Linked DNA regions of Homo sapiens: region 2 is linked to region 1. Evidence: fine-mapped expression QTL. Tissue or cell type: blood mononuclear cells. Region 1 holds a variant in brackets; the other region holds the start of a gene. All regions are shown on one strand. Distances are from middle to middle.

The links. PIP is the estimated chance that this variant, and not a neighbour inherited with it, causes the effect.
Region 2: LRRC58 starts here. The variant in region 1 is fine-mapped to the expression of LRRC58 in blood mononuclear cells (TOPMed, PIP above 0.99).

What each region holds. Positions count from the first base shown.
Region 1 is chr3:120,308,522-120,316,261 of GRCh38, reverse strand. No RefSeq gene overlaps it. Among named protein-coding and RNA genes, the nearest start is that of GPR156, 27 kb to the right of the region's middle. RefSeq lists an enhancer at 2,310-2,913. The variant C/T (reference allele first, on the strand shown) is at 4,233.
Region 2 is chr3:120,345,922-120,353,661 of GRCh38, reverse strand. LRRC58 (leucine rich repeat containing 58) reads left to right here and starts at 4,308. Exons shown (of 4, transcript NM_001099678.2): 1 at 4,308-4,918. The coding sequence starts at 4,419. It also overlaps the pseudogene BTNL12P. RefSeq lists a silencer at 4,313-4,642 and an enhancer at 4,993-5,042.

The DNA of each region.
Region 1 (7,740 bases):
AGAAGAATGTATTTTCTGTTGTTTTTGTATGGACAGTTCTGTAGATGTCCATGAGGTCCATTTGGTCCAGTGTTGAGTTCAGGTCCTGATTATCTTTGTTCATTTTCTGCTTCAATGATCTGTCTAATACTGTTAATGGGGCATTGAAGCCTCCCCCTATTATTGTGTGGGGGTCTAAGTTTCTTTGAAGGTCTCTAGGAACTTGCTCTATGAATCTGGGTGCTCCTGTGTTGGGTGCATATATATTCAGGAGAGCTAGGTCTTCTTGTTGAATTGAACCCTTTACCATTATGGAATGTCCTCTTTGTCTTTTTTGATCTTTGTTGGTTTAAAGTATGTTTTGTATGAAGTTAGGATTACAATTCCTATTTTTTTTTATTTTTGTTCTTGTTTGCTTGGTAAATTTTTCTCCATCCCTTAATTTTGAGCCTATGGGTGTCATTGCATATAATATGGGTTTCTTGACGACAGCATACTATTGTGTCTTGCTTCTTTATCCAGCTTGCCACTCTGTCTCTTTAACTTGGAGCATTTAGTCGATTTACATTCAAAGTTAGTATTGATATGTGTGGATTTGATCCTGTCTTCATGTCATTACCTGTTTATTATGCTGACTTCTTTGTGTGGTTGCTTTATAGTGTCACTGGTCTGTGTACTTAAGAGTGTTTTTATAGTAGCTTGTAATGGTCTTTCCATATTTAGTGCCTCTTTCAGGAGCTCTTTTGAGGGAGGTCTGGTGGTAACAAATTCCCTCAGCATTTGCAATTTCTTATTTCTCCTTTGCTTATGAAGTTTAGTTTGGGCAGACAAGAAATTCTTAGTTGGAATTTATTTTCTCTAAGAATGTTGAATATAGGCCCCAATCTCTTCTGGCTTATAGGGTCTCTGCCAAGAGGTCTGCTGTTAGTTGGATGGGCTTCCCTTTGTAGGTGACCTGGCCTTTCTCTCTAGTTGCCTTTAAATTTTTTTCTTTCATTTCGACCTTGGAGAATCTGATGATTACGTGTCTAGGGGATGATCTTCTTGTGAAGTATCTTACTGTGTTTCTTTGCATTTCCTGAATTTGAATGTTGGCCTCTCTAGCTAGGTTGGGGAAATTCTCTTGGATGATATCCTGAAATATATGTTCCAAATTGGTACCATTCTCCAAATTGGTACCAGTCTCTCTTTCAGGGACATCAGTGAGTCATAGATTTGGTCTCTTTGCATAATCCCTCATTTCTTGGAGGTTTTGTTTATTCCTTTTCAATATTTTTTCTTTATTCTTGTCTGTCTTCAGAATGTCAGTCTTTAAGCTCTGAGATTCTTTCCTTAGCTTGGTTTATTGTGCTATTAATTACAATTGCATTATGAAGTTCTTGTAGAGTGTTTTTCAGTTCTTTCAGGTTGGTTATATTCTTTCTATACTGGGTACTTTGTCTGCCAGCTCTGTATCATTTAATTGTGATTCTTAGCTTCCTTAGATTGGGTTTCAACATTCTCCTGAACCTCAATGATCATTCCTATCCATATTCTGAATTCTATTTCTGTCATTTCAGCCATCTCAGCCAGGTAAGAACCCTTGCTGGAGAACAAGTACAGTTGTTTGGAGGAATGAAGGCACTCTGGCTTTTTGAGTTGTCAGAGTTATGGTGCTGGTTTTTTCTTATATTTGTGGGCTTTTATTCTTTCCATCTTTGAAGTTGCTGTCTTTTTTGTCTTTATCCTATTTGGTGACCTTGGGGACCTGATTATAGTAGTGTTGGGTTCAGGTGACTGACTTCATTTCTGGAAGATTTTAGGGGGCCAAGCTTCAGCTCAGGACTCCTGGACTGCATGTTCTAACTCTGGGAGACTGGTATTGAGCCCCAACTTTGTTCTCTGGCTCCTCGAGGTTATGAACCTATTGTGCTGGAGGGGCCAAGGTGTTCCCAGACTACTGGTCACAATACTCTAATGGGTGATGCCATCCAAAGCACATCATAGCAGGGTGACAGTGTGATCTGTCCTAATTTGCCTGTGCCAGCTGCAGCAGCAGCAGCAGCATGGTGGGATGCATACTGCATGCTCATCAGCTACAGCAGGGTACTAGTGGGTACTAGGGTGGCAGCCTTCATGGGGCTGTGTGCATGTTCCTCTGGTGGTGGTATTAGTACAGGGTTGGGGCACTGGAGGGTGCAGGACTGTGTGAGGTCTCTGTGCACATTCACACCCACAGCAGTGGCTGGTCAGAGCAAGGGTGGGTTCACTATTCTCCATGACTAGTTATGTGCCAGTGGCAGTGTTGGCACAGAGGCAGGGCACTTGCAGGGGTAGGACTGGCAAGCTCCATGCTCACCACCATCTGACAACAATGGCATTGTGACGGGGGAGGGGAGCAGGGTGCAGTCACCCTGGCAGCAGTGACATGGCAGGGTGCACACACCCACACATACTGGCAGGGAAGGTAAGGCAAAGTCTGCCTTCATACACATACACTGGCACAGTGATGCAGGGGGTGGCTGTGGGCAAGTGCATGCAGTCAAAGTGGCATGGGGGAGGCTGCAGTGGAGGGAGGGCACAGGCAGGCTGGTGTGTGTCCATAGGGGCCACTCTGCTGGAGCACTCTGCTGGTCAGACAAGGTCTGCCAGTCTTCGGATGTCCTAGTCCCTTGGGGGGAGATGTTCCTCCTGGCTGCGTGTAGTTGGCCATCTTAGAGAGAGAGCCAGGAATTTCTTTCTAGTTCTAAGAAAACATAGAATCAAAGGATTAGCAGCAAGAACTTGAGAAGTCATCATCACACCACTTTTTGCAAAAGGACAATTAATCCATTAGGGTAAAAACATATCCTATGTTTAAATAACTCCCAGAAGATTTTTCTTCTTTAGGAATTCTGAAGCTTAACAATGGTCACTAAAGGAAGCATTTTCTTTCTTTTCTTTCTTTCTTTCTTTTTTTTGAGACGTTTGAAACAAGAGTTTTGCTCTTGTTGCCCAGGCTGGAGTGCAATGGTGCAATCTCAGCTCACTGCAACCTCCACCTCCTGGGTTCAAGTGATTCTCCTGCCTCAGCCTCCCAAGTAGCTGGGATTACAGGCATGTGCTGCCAAGCCTGGCTAATTTTGTATTTTTAGTAGAGACAAGTTTTCTCCATGTTGGTCAAGCTGGTCTCGAACTCCTGACCTCAGGTGATCCACCCGCCTTGGCCTCCCAAAGTGCTGGGATTACAGGCATGAGCCACCACACCCAGCCAAAGGAAGTATTTTCTAAGGTTCTTGTGATTTGTGCTAGCCATATTAGATGTGCAGATAACTTTTAAATTGTTTATGTCATCAGAGAAGCACAGTGACACTAAGACGTGTGCACTACCCATTATGTTATTTTTGTACCTTGGTCTGGCTCTAAAATCTTGCTGCTCTCACTTTCTCCCAATCCACAGTTCTTCCCACCACTATAAACGTCAAGGCACACAGGAGTTGTTAGGGACAGACTCCCCCAAGAAAGCTTCTTGGTGCTGCCCACACTTCCCCCAAGTCTCTTTACATTTCTAAGCCCTTGTCTAGGCACCACGGTGAAGCCAGCAGACTTCACTTATCAGACCTTGCTGCAGTAAGCAAACCCCAATTACAAACCATCTGGACCGCACAGTGGGAGGTCGTGGGAAGCATAAACAAACTACCTACACCCTCCTATAATAAACCTCACAAGGTGATATGTGGCAAAATTAACCCCATTGAATCCTTTCTTGAAATTCTTTAACATAGTTCCTAACAAGGTAGGCTTACTTTGTGTTTTACTCATTTTCCTCAGGAGACAAAACAACACTCTTACCACAAAGAGGGAAGGGAAAAAGGGGCAAAAAGTCACTCACTCACCAAGCAATTCACACTAAAACCAAAGTATGGATAAGGAGTTACTTATTCATCAAGCAATTTGAGCCAAGTCAGAACCGAAATCAAAGCCAAAACAGTTCAAAACCAAAAGTCAATACTGAAATCTAAACCAAAACAGTGCAAATCTAGTCAAAATCAAAACCAAAACCAAGGTGCCAAAAAGGCACGCCATGGGTGATCAGGCCACACTTCCACTCAGATGGAGTGGGCAAGTTCGAAGACCGGTCTTACCGTGTTCCAGATGTCCGGACTCCAAGCGCCAATTCCTTCCCGGTGTTCAGCCGCTGCATTAATCCTCCGCGGGGGCCTACCGTGCAGTGCTCTGGAGGCGTTCCACTGGGGCAATTGCCTACCGGGGAGCGCTCTCAGGATTCGCATCGC[C/T]AAAGCTGGCCAGAGTCTCCCACAGGGATGCTCCACTGGGCAGGCCTAAGCCGCCTAAGGGGCTGCCTCGACCATCCGCTTATCACCTTGCTTCCAGATCAGGGAACCAAGAAATGTAGCAGGACAAGCCACAGACAAAACCCCTCAGACACCGAGTTGAGGAAGGAAAGGGCTTTATTGGCCAGGAGCATCAGCAGACTTATGTCTCAAAAAAACCGAGCTCCCCGAGTGAGCAATTCCTGTCCCTTTTAAGGGCTTACAACTCTAAGGAGGTCGAGTGAGAGGGTCATGATCGATTGAGCAAGCAGGGGGTACCTGACTGGGGGCTGCATGCACCGGTAATCAGAATGGAACAGAACAGGACAGGGATTTTCACGATGCTTTTCCATACAATGTCTGGGACACAAGCAGTTAAGTCAGGAGTTGATTGTTAACTACTAGGCCCAAGGCACGTTGCTGGGCTGCCTGCCTGTGGATTTCATTTCTGCCCTTCAGTTTTTAATTCTTTTTTCTTTGGAGGCAGAAATTGGGCATAAGACAATAAGAGGGGTGTTCTCCTCCCTTACTATGACTCCTGCTTCTCAGGATACTCCACAACCAATCATGAGCCCCACTGAGTCAACAAAGCAAAAAACAATATATTAATATCTAAAGGAAAAAAAAAAGAAATAAAAGATTTTGCAACTTCAAATTCCTTACATGAGTGAAAGGAGATGATCACTGTTGAGACCCAAATTAGTGGGCTAGATGATCAAATGGGGAAAATAGCTTAGAACAAGGAGGAAAGATATAAAGTATAAAAGGAAAATATCTTAGGCCCCCAGAATCACTAAGGAAAACTCAAGCTGGAAACTGCTTAGGGCAAACATGCCTCCCGTTTTATTCAAAGTCACTCCTCTGCTCACCGACATAGATACATATCTGACTTACCCTCCTTTGGAAAGGCTAATCAGAAACTCAAAAAAATGTAACCATTTGTGTATCACCTATCTGTGACCTGGAAGCTCCCTCCCTGCTTCCTGCCTTTAGTTCAAGTTGTCCTGCCTTTCCAGACTGAACCAATGTACTTCTTACATACATTGATTAATGTCTCATGTCTCCCCAAATGTATAAAGCCAAGCTTTGCCCTGACCACTGTGGGCACATGTCATCAGGACTTCCTGAAGCTGTGTCATGACGCATCCTCAACCTTGGCAAAATAAACTTTCTAAATTAATTGAGACCTGTTTCAGATTTTCTGGGTTCACAAAAGCAATTAAAATCATGAGAGAAAGGATATGTGACATTTTGAGGATAGATCCAAGAAGTTTAGCATATTATATTGGGAGATCCAGATGGGGAAAAAGACACATAGAAGGAAAAGCAACATAAGAAAGGAGAAAAATTTTTGGACCAAGAAATACCTGAATCTACAGATTAAATGGATTCAACAAGTCCAGGCTTGATTGATAAATTCACACACACACACACACCCTTAGCAATATTCTGGAAAGATTCTGGAACTCTAAGGAAAAAAAGAAATCTTTACAAACTTTTCCACTCAGAAAAAATAAATTGCCTTATTAATTATAATGCAAACAGAATCAGACTTCTTGTGCATCAGCAGCAGCTAGAAGTTAGTGGAATATCTGCAGACTTCTGAAATGCAAGGACTCCAACTCAAGAATTTCTTGACCAGCCAAAGAATCATTTAGTTGTCAGAGTGATAGGAAGAAATTATTTGTAGGTATGTATGAAGTCAAAGACTAATGCCTACATTTTCCCACCCTAAGAAAATACTTAAGAAGTGACTCTAGCCAGATGATAGATTAACCATAAGAGAAACTACAAGATGATAAAGAAGGGAAGAAATGGTAGAGATATAGGAGCTGAAAAGAAATTATTTAGGCAGTTAGTGAGGGTAAGAGAGTCCTCGGTGAGGCTTCACTTTTAACAAAAAACAGCCCCAAAACCATTTCTTTTCTAACAAACAGCAGCCAGTAAAATCGAGCTGCAGACATAGATAAGCAAGCTGGAAGCTTGTGCAGGTGAATGCCGGCAGCTGTGCCAATAGGAAAAGGCTATCTGGGGCCAGGCATGTTCAACATGGAAGCTCCATCTTCCATTTTCTTTGTCACCATGTGTGCAGTAAAGAAACAGGGAACATGGTGCCAGCCAGGTAGAAAATTCCTTTGCATAATAAAAGATTAGGGTGCAGTGGCCAGCCTCTTCAGATGCTATACAAATGACACACCTGGTCCAACCAATTCTCTGCACCCTCTGCAAATCAGACACCACCTCCTCAAGCCCATCCGTAAAACCAGCCGCATCTTGCCAGGTTCCGGGAGATCCGTTTGGAACCCCCTCCCTCTGCACAAGGGAGCTTTTCTCTTTTGCCTATTAAACTTTCACTCTTAAACTCACTCCTTCTTAGTCCGTTTCCTTGATTTCCTTGGTGTGAGGCAATGAACCTGGGGTATTACCCCAGACAAACAACACTGCTTCAGTAGTGAGCAACAAAATGTAGAACAAATAAATCAATATAAAGACATATATAGACAAAAGATATCTAGATAATTACAGATGGAGAATGTGTAAGTGCAGATACAAAACAACATAATAGCTAGATATATGAAGCAAAACCTGTAAGAAATAAAAGAAGAATTTGATTAAATAAAATTATATTGGAAAACTTAAACTTTTTTTTCAGAATTGGATAAATTTGGTATATAGCAAATGTGGGATGGCATAGGAATTAAATAATACAATTAATAAATGATGTGGTATCTATGTGTAAGCTCTAACATCCCTCGAACTACAAGAAAACATGTTTTCGTACCGATAGAATATTTACAAAAGTCAGTCATATTTGACCAAGAAGAAAACCTTAACAGACTCTAAAAACCACATTCCTTTATTTCAAGCCAACAGATTGAAAACAAATAATGTAAAGATAGTAAGAAACCACACACAGAAAAAAATTTTTTAAATTATAAAATATCTATAAAGCAATGAAAAAGAGAACACTTTTTACCAAAATCCAAATGACACAGTGGAAATTACTCAGAAGAAAATGTGTACATTAAAGTTTTCATAAAATAATATAAAAATAATATTAGATTTCATTTCAAGAAATTAGAAAAAAAGAGCAACAAAGTCAATTTTTAAAAATTAGAAAGAGAGCCGGGCACAGTGGCTCATGCCTGTAATCCCAGCACTTTGGGAGGCCGAGGTGGGCAGATCACGAGGTCAAGAGTTTCAGTCCACCCTGGCCAACATGGTGAAACCCCGTCTCTACTAAAAAAAAATACAAAAATTAGCCGGGCGTGGTGGCGGGCGCCTGTAGTCCCAGCTACTGTAGTCCCAGCTACTCGGGAGGCTGAGGCAGAAGAATCGCTTGATCCCGGAGGCGCAGGTTGTAGTGAGCCGAGATCACGCAACTGCACTCCAGCCTGGGCGACAGTGAGACTCTGCCTCAAAAAAAAAAAAAAAAAAAAGAAAAGAAAGAATGTATAAAGACAAAAGCTAA
Region 2 (7,740 bases), 37 kb before region 1:
CAATCATGAGTAAAGACTGTTCTCAACTTTGTTTTTCTACCCTGATCATGATATAACAAGTGGCAGAGAGCAATAGTTATAACATTAACTACTATTACAGCTAATAATAATAATTGCCACTACTTACAGAGTATTGACTTTGTGCTAGGTACTATGCTAAGCACTTTAGATTTTCACCTTACAATGACCCTATGGAACAGATAATATATTTTATAATACAGATGATGAAATCAAGCCTTACAGAAATTAAGTAACAAAATCAAGATTAAGTAAGAGAAATCTGATTTCCAGAGGTGGGTTTTGAAACCTGTATCTGATAAAAACCAAAGCCCACTCTTTTAACTGCATCAGTATGCTGCCTCCTAACTAGAATGGTTTATGAAAGGATTCTCTACTTAGATTATTTCTTGTTTTTTCTGCAGTCAGTAGGTCAATAGGGCCTATTTAAGTAAGGTATGTCAAAAACTATTCATGCATTTATTGCGTTCACTCACTATTTGCTGCCTACGATGTCTTGGGGGATACCATGGTAAACAGATGCAGTTCCTGCCTTCAGGAAGCCTAGAAAGGGTAGCTGAAGGAGGAGGAGAATTCATTTGGTCTCCTAAATGTCCAATACTATTCCAGTCAAGAGACTTATCTTGAAATGTATTCAATTGGCCAAGCCTGACATAATGGTGAAGTTCTGATAAGTGGACAAACAGGCCATGTACTTTCCCAGTTCCCTGTAACCCATGTTCCTTTCCCTATGTAACATATTCTGTTGTCTCCTCTGTCCTTTACCTTCTCCAGTGCCTCCACTCCCCTCTCAGGCATCTCTTTCAGCTAGCCACAGATGAACCCCATCACTGTGGGGGTTCACAAGCCACCACAGCTCTTTTACCTCCCAGAAAGTTTTCAGTATTCTCCAGGCTGACTGGAGGGTTTCAAGGGCCACTGTAAGATTGGGGGATGCTGCTTCATTTAAACCCATCTGGCTGCAGTGAAAAGAGATACATCCACGTTAGCTAAGATAGAGAAGGGTTATTATACTGGGCAGTAAGAAGATGCTCACATTTAATCCAGCTGTTAACAAGTTGGCCTCAGTGAAGCTGCACCTGGTGCGTTACTCTGGATATGAGGCAGTCCTAGATTTCAGCAGCAATATTTTATGAATCTTCACACTTATGTTTCACAATTGACAAAAAATTAGCGACATTCCCCATGTCTGCTTCTTTCTGATTCAACTGTAATTTCTTTCTGATCTGCCACCAACTGGAATTTCCCTCTGGGTTCTTTGGATTAAATTCCTGGGCGAGTGAGAAAAAAAAATAATCTCTGCTTCTGTTTGGGCAGTGCCTTATAAGTGACAGGCCACCAGGCAGTCTGTTGATGGGCTTACCTTGGTCAGATGTCCACTATGGCTCCGATCAACATAGGTTCTAAAGTGACGTCATATGATACAAGGACAGCACCCCAAATTATGTTTGGTTCAGGTGCCTCTGCTCCAGTTTTGTGTATGAAGCCCACAAAACCCCCAATCCTTAAGACAAGTGCCGTATAATTCCAACAATCACAATATTTCAAAGTACCATCAATGGATAGATGCCACTTGTAATACTGACACTATTTGGAAGATCTTATTGCTTTGAATCATTTAAAACAAAAAACAAAAAAAACTAAGCTCAAGAGAGCAGTGTAGTGTAGTGGAAAGAACATAGACTTTGGAGCCACACAGCCCTAAGGCTGAATTTCTAATTAGCCTTTCACTCTCTGTGATAGCAGACTTTACTCATCATTTTTGAGCTTGAGTTCCCTCATTTCTAAAATGCGGATAAACATTCTTATTTATAAATGTGGCGATAAGTAGAATTACATTTTTTAAGGTTTGTGATAAAAGGTGTTTGATAAATAAAAATTCCTTTTCAACTAAAACTTAATATTTACAAATATATTCAGTGTTTCAAAAGATATAGAGTACCTGTACCTACTGTGGAGCAGGCACTGTTAGGGGATGGGTATATAATAATAAGACAGTTCTTTTCAAGGACTTTACAATTTACTCTAATTATTCAAAAAATAAGTCCACTAACTAAGAGATATATCCAACTCAGTCAATCCAAATTATTTGCAAGAAATCATACTAGGCAATGGGGGATGGTGGTGGTGTGAGGGAGAATCCAAAAATGAATAAAGATAGTCATTCTATGTAAGTAGGAACCTACTCTAATTGGACATGAGATGTGCATTTTACACTGAAATTTACAGTTTCCTTGCCAATAGCTTCAATGAGGCAGAAACACAGTTTTCAACTTTTAGAAAGCAGTTTCTCAGTTATCTTAGCTGCTCAATGGTCTGGTTACATTTATCCTAAATTCAACAACCAAATAGTTGGAGACTTTATTAAATTAAAAGCTCCTAGTACAGCGTTGCAAGCAGTAGGTTTTCAAAATTTGTCAGGTTACTCATTTCTTTACCTACACCACTTTTTTTCTACTTCCTTTCCTTTATTCTATATAATGTGGAGTTCCCATACTAAGTATTTTTTTCCAAACTTTCTACTAGGAAGCCTCATTTGCTATTATTGAGGTTATCTTTTTCCCTTTAATTCCACTGATTTGTAATCTTACCTCTTATTTTATTTTTCTTGAGACAAAAAAAAAAAAAAGTGCAGGGCAGTGGCACAATCATGGCTCTCTGCAACCTCTACCTCTTAGGCTGAAACAATCCTCCCAGCAGCCTGTGTAGTAGTTGGCACCACAGGCGAGCGCCACTAGGCCCGGCTAATTTTTGTATTTTTTGTAGAGACGGGGTTTCCCCATGTTGGCCAGGCTGGTCTGGAACTCCTGACCTCAGCGATCTGCTGGCCTGGGCCAAAGCACTGGGATTACAGGCATGAGCCATGGCACCTGGCCAACTCTTATTTCTGAATTATGTTTGAATCCTTTCTTTTTCTCATTTTACATTACGTTCCTATCACTTTTTAAAATCCAAGATAAATATTTTAAAGCAAAAACAACTATTATTTTAAATATTTGTTATTTTCAGATATTAGGACTACTGTTAGAATGCTGGCTTGACCCAAAATAAGGTCTGTTCTTAAAAGGACTCTTTCAAAACAGATGACTCATCAGTTTTAAAAAGCATTCCACCATTAGCTTAAACATACAAAGTACGTCCTTCTAGGACTACCACTCAATCAGAAATTAAAGTTTGACTGCAGAGTAAAGGCATAGTTTCTCATACAAATAAATGACTGGCAAGAAAAAAACGACTTTCCTTTTTTAAGGAGGAAAGCAATTTAATGTCGTTGATTATACACGACCACTTAACTTTCTTATGTATAAGCTTTGTTAAAAAAAAAAAAAGCTAAGCATTTTTTCTCATTTCTATTCATTACTTTTCAAAATCATAAAATGTAATTTCAGAAAAGATTGAGTTTGGGACAAGGATGAAAAATACGTTAATTAGAATTACTAAATTAGTACCAGATCAGGATTTTCCCAAACTGTAGTTTTGACCTGCAGTACAAACTCTATGCTTTGAGTTTTTAAACTAACTCATTAATTTGAGCTATCTCAAATCATGCAACCGCCTCCATATCTCCCAAATTCACTCCTAGACACAACTTACACCAAAAGCCACGTATGTGCTTCTACAATTAAAACGGGCAAAACGTCCTTACTTGATACACATTTCTGCCTTAAAAAAGAAAAAAATAATTCTGTGGGGCAAGTAGTGCGGGTGTTACCCATATTTTATGCATGGGGCAACTGAAATCAAATCCCTGCCCTAGGCTATTTAACAGCGGAACCTCCAGTAAGGGTCCGGGGGTTCTGAGGTCTAGTCCAGCTGCGTTCACATTTCGAGGTCGGCTTTGTTAATCCTCGGACTTTAAATTCCTGCGGTTTTCTGTCATGGAGCTAAATCACCACTAAATTACTGTGTGCTCACAGAGTCCTGCAGACACGGGCCCCACTTTTAAACTGAAAAACAAGCGGGGGACGGGGGGGGCACGTGACGCGCGAACCCTCAAGGCGAGATAACCGAACATCCTTGGGCTGTTTGCCGAGGCAGTCTTGTAGCCCTGGAATAGGTCACCAGGCTCCAGCGACTATAAAGCGCGGCCGCCGAAACCCGGTCCGGCTCAGATGACAATTTGGCAGCCTCTGGGTGTCTGCCTCAGTTCTGCGCAGCCCATGCTGCGCTCTTGCCACTCCGCGCCCCGCGCCTCGTGAGGCAGAGCCCGCCCCGGAGCGGCGCGCGCACCCCAGGACTCGCGTCGCGTGACTCGGCCAAGGCGCGCAGGGTTTGCGCCCGCCCGCGCCACTTCCGACTCAGCCCTCGGTTCAGGTTCCGGGGCGCCGCAGAGCTCCCGGCCTCTGGACCGCGCGCGGCGCTCTGGGGAATCCGGCGCCACGCGCCGTGCGGTGGCCAGGATGGAGGAGGCCGGAGCAGCGGTGGTCACGGCCGGGGAGGCCGAACTGAACTGGTCCCGCCTCAGCGTGTCCACCGAGACGCTGGAGTCTGAGCTGGAGGCGCGGGGGGAGGAGCGGCGCGGGGCGCGGGAGGCGCTGCTGCGGCTGCTGCTGCCTCACAACCGTCTGGTGTCGCTGCCACGGGCGCTGGGCAGCGGCTTCCCGCACCTCCAGCTGCTGGACGTGAGCGGCAACGCGTTGACCGCGCTCGGGCCGGAGCTGCTCGCTCTGCGCGGCCTGCGCACGCTGCTGGCCAAGAACAACCGGCTCGGCGGGCCCAGTGCGCTGCCCAAGGGCCTGGCCCAGTCGCCGCTCTGCCGCAGCCTCCAGGTGCTCAACCTCAGCGGCAACTGTTTCCAGGAGGTGCCTGCCTCGCTCTTAGAGCTGCGCGCGCTGCAGACCCTGAGCCTGGGCGGCAACCAACTGCAGAGCATCCCGGCTGAGATCGAGAACTTGCAGAGGTGAGCGGGTGTGTGCCGGAGGGTGGGGAGGCCTCGGGCGGTGTCCGGGAACCCTGGGGCGCCGGGCCTGGGCACCTCAACGTTTGTCACGTAACTATTTCCAAGCTTTCTCTTTAACTGTGCGGTAGTGAGTTCTGCCCAACCATCTCAGCAAGTTGTTGTAAATACCTAGTATGTTCGCATGTGTGACTGTTTGGTGTGTTGTGTTTGGCCTATGCAGATTCTCGAGGCATTTTTTCTGTCTTCCTTATTGAATCTGGGGCGTGATCCAAACTGAGTGGAAACTCAAAACAGATGTAAATCAGAGGTTGTCACTTCTTTGCTCAAAAGTCTTCCGTGGATTTCCATCTCTATAGATCAAAGTACGTGCCTTTGAGCGTGGCGTACAAGGTGCTCTGATCTAACCCTTGCTTTCCACTACATTTGCAGCTTCCTCTTCTCTGTGGCAGTACCAACTACCATTTGTGGAGTTCAGTGACCTATGCATTTTCCCACGTAGAGAAAGCAGCTTGGAGTTGCTGGTAGGCACTCAGTATGTGTTGAATGGATGCAGTGCCTCTGTACACGTGCTGTTTCCCTTGCTTGGAATGTTTCCTTCACCTGGCAAACGCCTATCATCCTTCAAAAGCTATCTCAAGTTAATCATCTCTGTGATTCCTTTTTTACTACTCCCTGCACAACAATTTTTTTCGTTACTACTCCCTGCACAAAAAAGTACAGCCTATGCTGTACTTTCTCTGTGCTTCATTCATCTTGCCTTTGCATTTACCTTATTGGATATGATTCCTTGTTTACAGGAATTATCTGCTTCACCTACTAGATTATGCAGTAAATATGTTAAATTTAACTTTAGGAGGAAGCAGAGAAACAGGATAATAAAAGTGCCCGGTGGGGGAGTGGGAAATAGAGCCAAATGTATTGTACAAAACGAAAAAGAGGTATCTTCCATCTGTAAGATATTTTCACACTTTATTGTATTTTCAGAGATAACAGAACGTTAAAGGTAGAAGGGACCTCAGAGTTAAGTGGAGCAAAAGAATATTGGCCTGGGAAGGCCGGGCGCGGTGGCTCACGCCTGTAATCCCAGCACTTTGGGAGGCCAAGGCAGGTGGATCATGAGGTCAGGAGATCGAGACCATCCTGGCTAACAAGGTGAAACCCCGTCTCTACTAAAAATACAAAAAATTAGCCGGGCGCGGTGGCGGGCGCCTGTAGTCCCAGCTACTCGGGAGGCTGAGGCAGGAGAATGGCGTGAACCCGGGAAGCGGAGCTTGCAGTGAGCCGAGATTGCGCCACTGCAGTCCGCAGTCCGGCCTGGGCGACAGAGCGAGACTCTGTCTCAAAAAAAAAAAAAAAAAAAAAAAGAATATTGGCCTGGGAAAAAAGAACTCTTGGTGCTCCAGCCTTAGGCAAGTCACTTGTATCCTAACTGTAGCGTATCCTAACTGTAGCTTTCTAATCTACAAATGAAGCATTTGGGCAAGATGTCTCTTCATTTACTCTTCAATAGATATTTATTGAATACCTGCCCTGTGTCAGGCACTGTCCCAAGTATTGGGGATACAATGGTGAACATGATCCAGGAGACAGACATTAAACAACTAACTATGAACCTCATTATTTAATTACAGTGGTTATGAGTTCTATGAAGACCTACAGAATGCCTTGAGACAAAATGACAGAGGCACATGGGAAAGCCCAGAGGCAAGGAGGGTAACTACTAAAATTCTGAAAGAAGGACATTGTACTGGGAAGTGAGCAAGAGGGAAAGTGGCAAATATAAATTTGGGCAAGTCAGCCCGTGTCAGGTCTTGAAGGCTATGATAAAGTTTGGATTTTATTCTAAGTGCACATGAGAGAGTTTTAAGCATGTGTCTTGTTGCTATGCAAGAATGGAGTGAGGAGAGGGTGAAGAGATAGAGATTTTGAGGGCTGGTTTGAAGGAGGTCATTGTAATAGGATGAGAGATGATGGTAGCCTATACCAGCTTGATACTAGGAGAAATGCTAAGAAATGGAAGATTTCGAGAAAAGATTTAGAGGTAAAATTGACAGCCCTTGGTTCCTTCTAATTTTAATGTTGCATAATTCCAGCCTTGGAATTTTCTTAATATACTAACAGGAACCCAGGGAAAGTATTATTTCCATCACATGGGGAGAAAAGTAGGCAAAAATCCCATTTATTTAATACTTACAATGCAGTAGATCCTGTCATAGGTGCTAACTATGCTTTTTAATACTCACAATGATGCCATAAGATGATGTGCTCCCATTTTTCAGAGGCAGAAACTGAAGCTCAGAGAAATTAAGTCATAAGATTACAAGGCTAGTAAGCATTGGAACTGTATTTGACCTCTGTGGTCTGTGACTCCAAACCCTTGAGTTCTGCACAGTGGCAGAGTACTAGAACCTGAATCTTTGTTGGGGGGTTGGAGGGTCATGGTTTTTTGCTTGTTTTTGTTTTTTGTTTTTTGTTTTCTGTTTTTTTGAGATGGAGTTTCACTCTGTTGCCCAGGCTGGAGTGCAGTGGCATGATCTGGGCTCACTGCAATCTCCGCCTCCTGGGTTCAAGTGATGCTCTTGCCTCAGCCTCCCAAGTATCTGCGACCACAGGAGCGTGCCATCACGCCAGCTAATTTTTGTACTTTTAGTAGAGACAAAGTTTCACCATGTTGGCCAGGCCAGGCTGGTCTCAAACTTCTGACCTCAAGTGATCCACCCACCTCTGCCTCCCAAAGTGTTGGGATTACAGGCGTGAGGCACTGCACCCAGCCTAGAACTTGACTTCTGTACTGTTGGATTTGTGATCAGGAGGATTTGTCA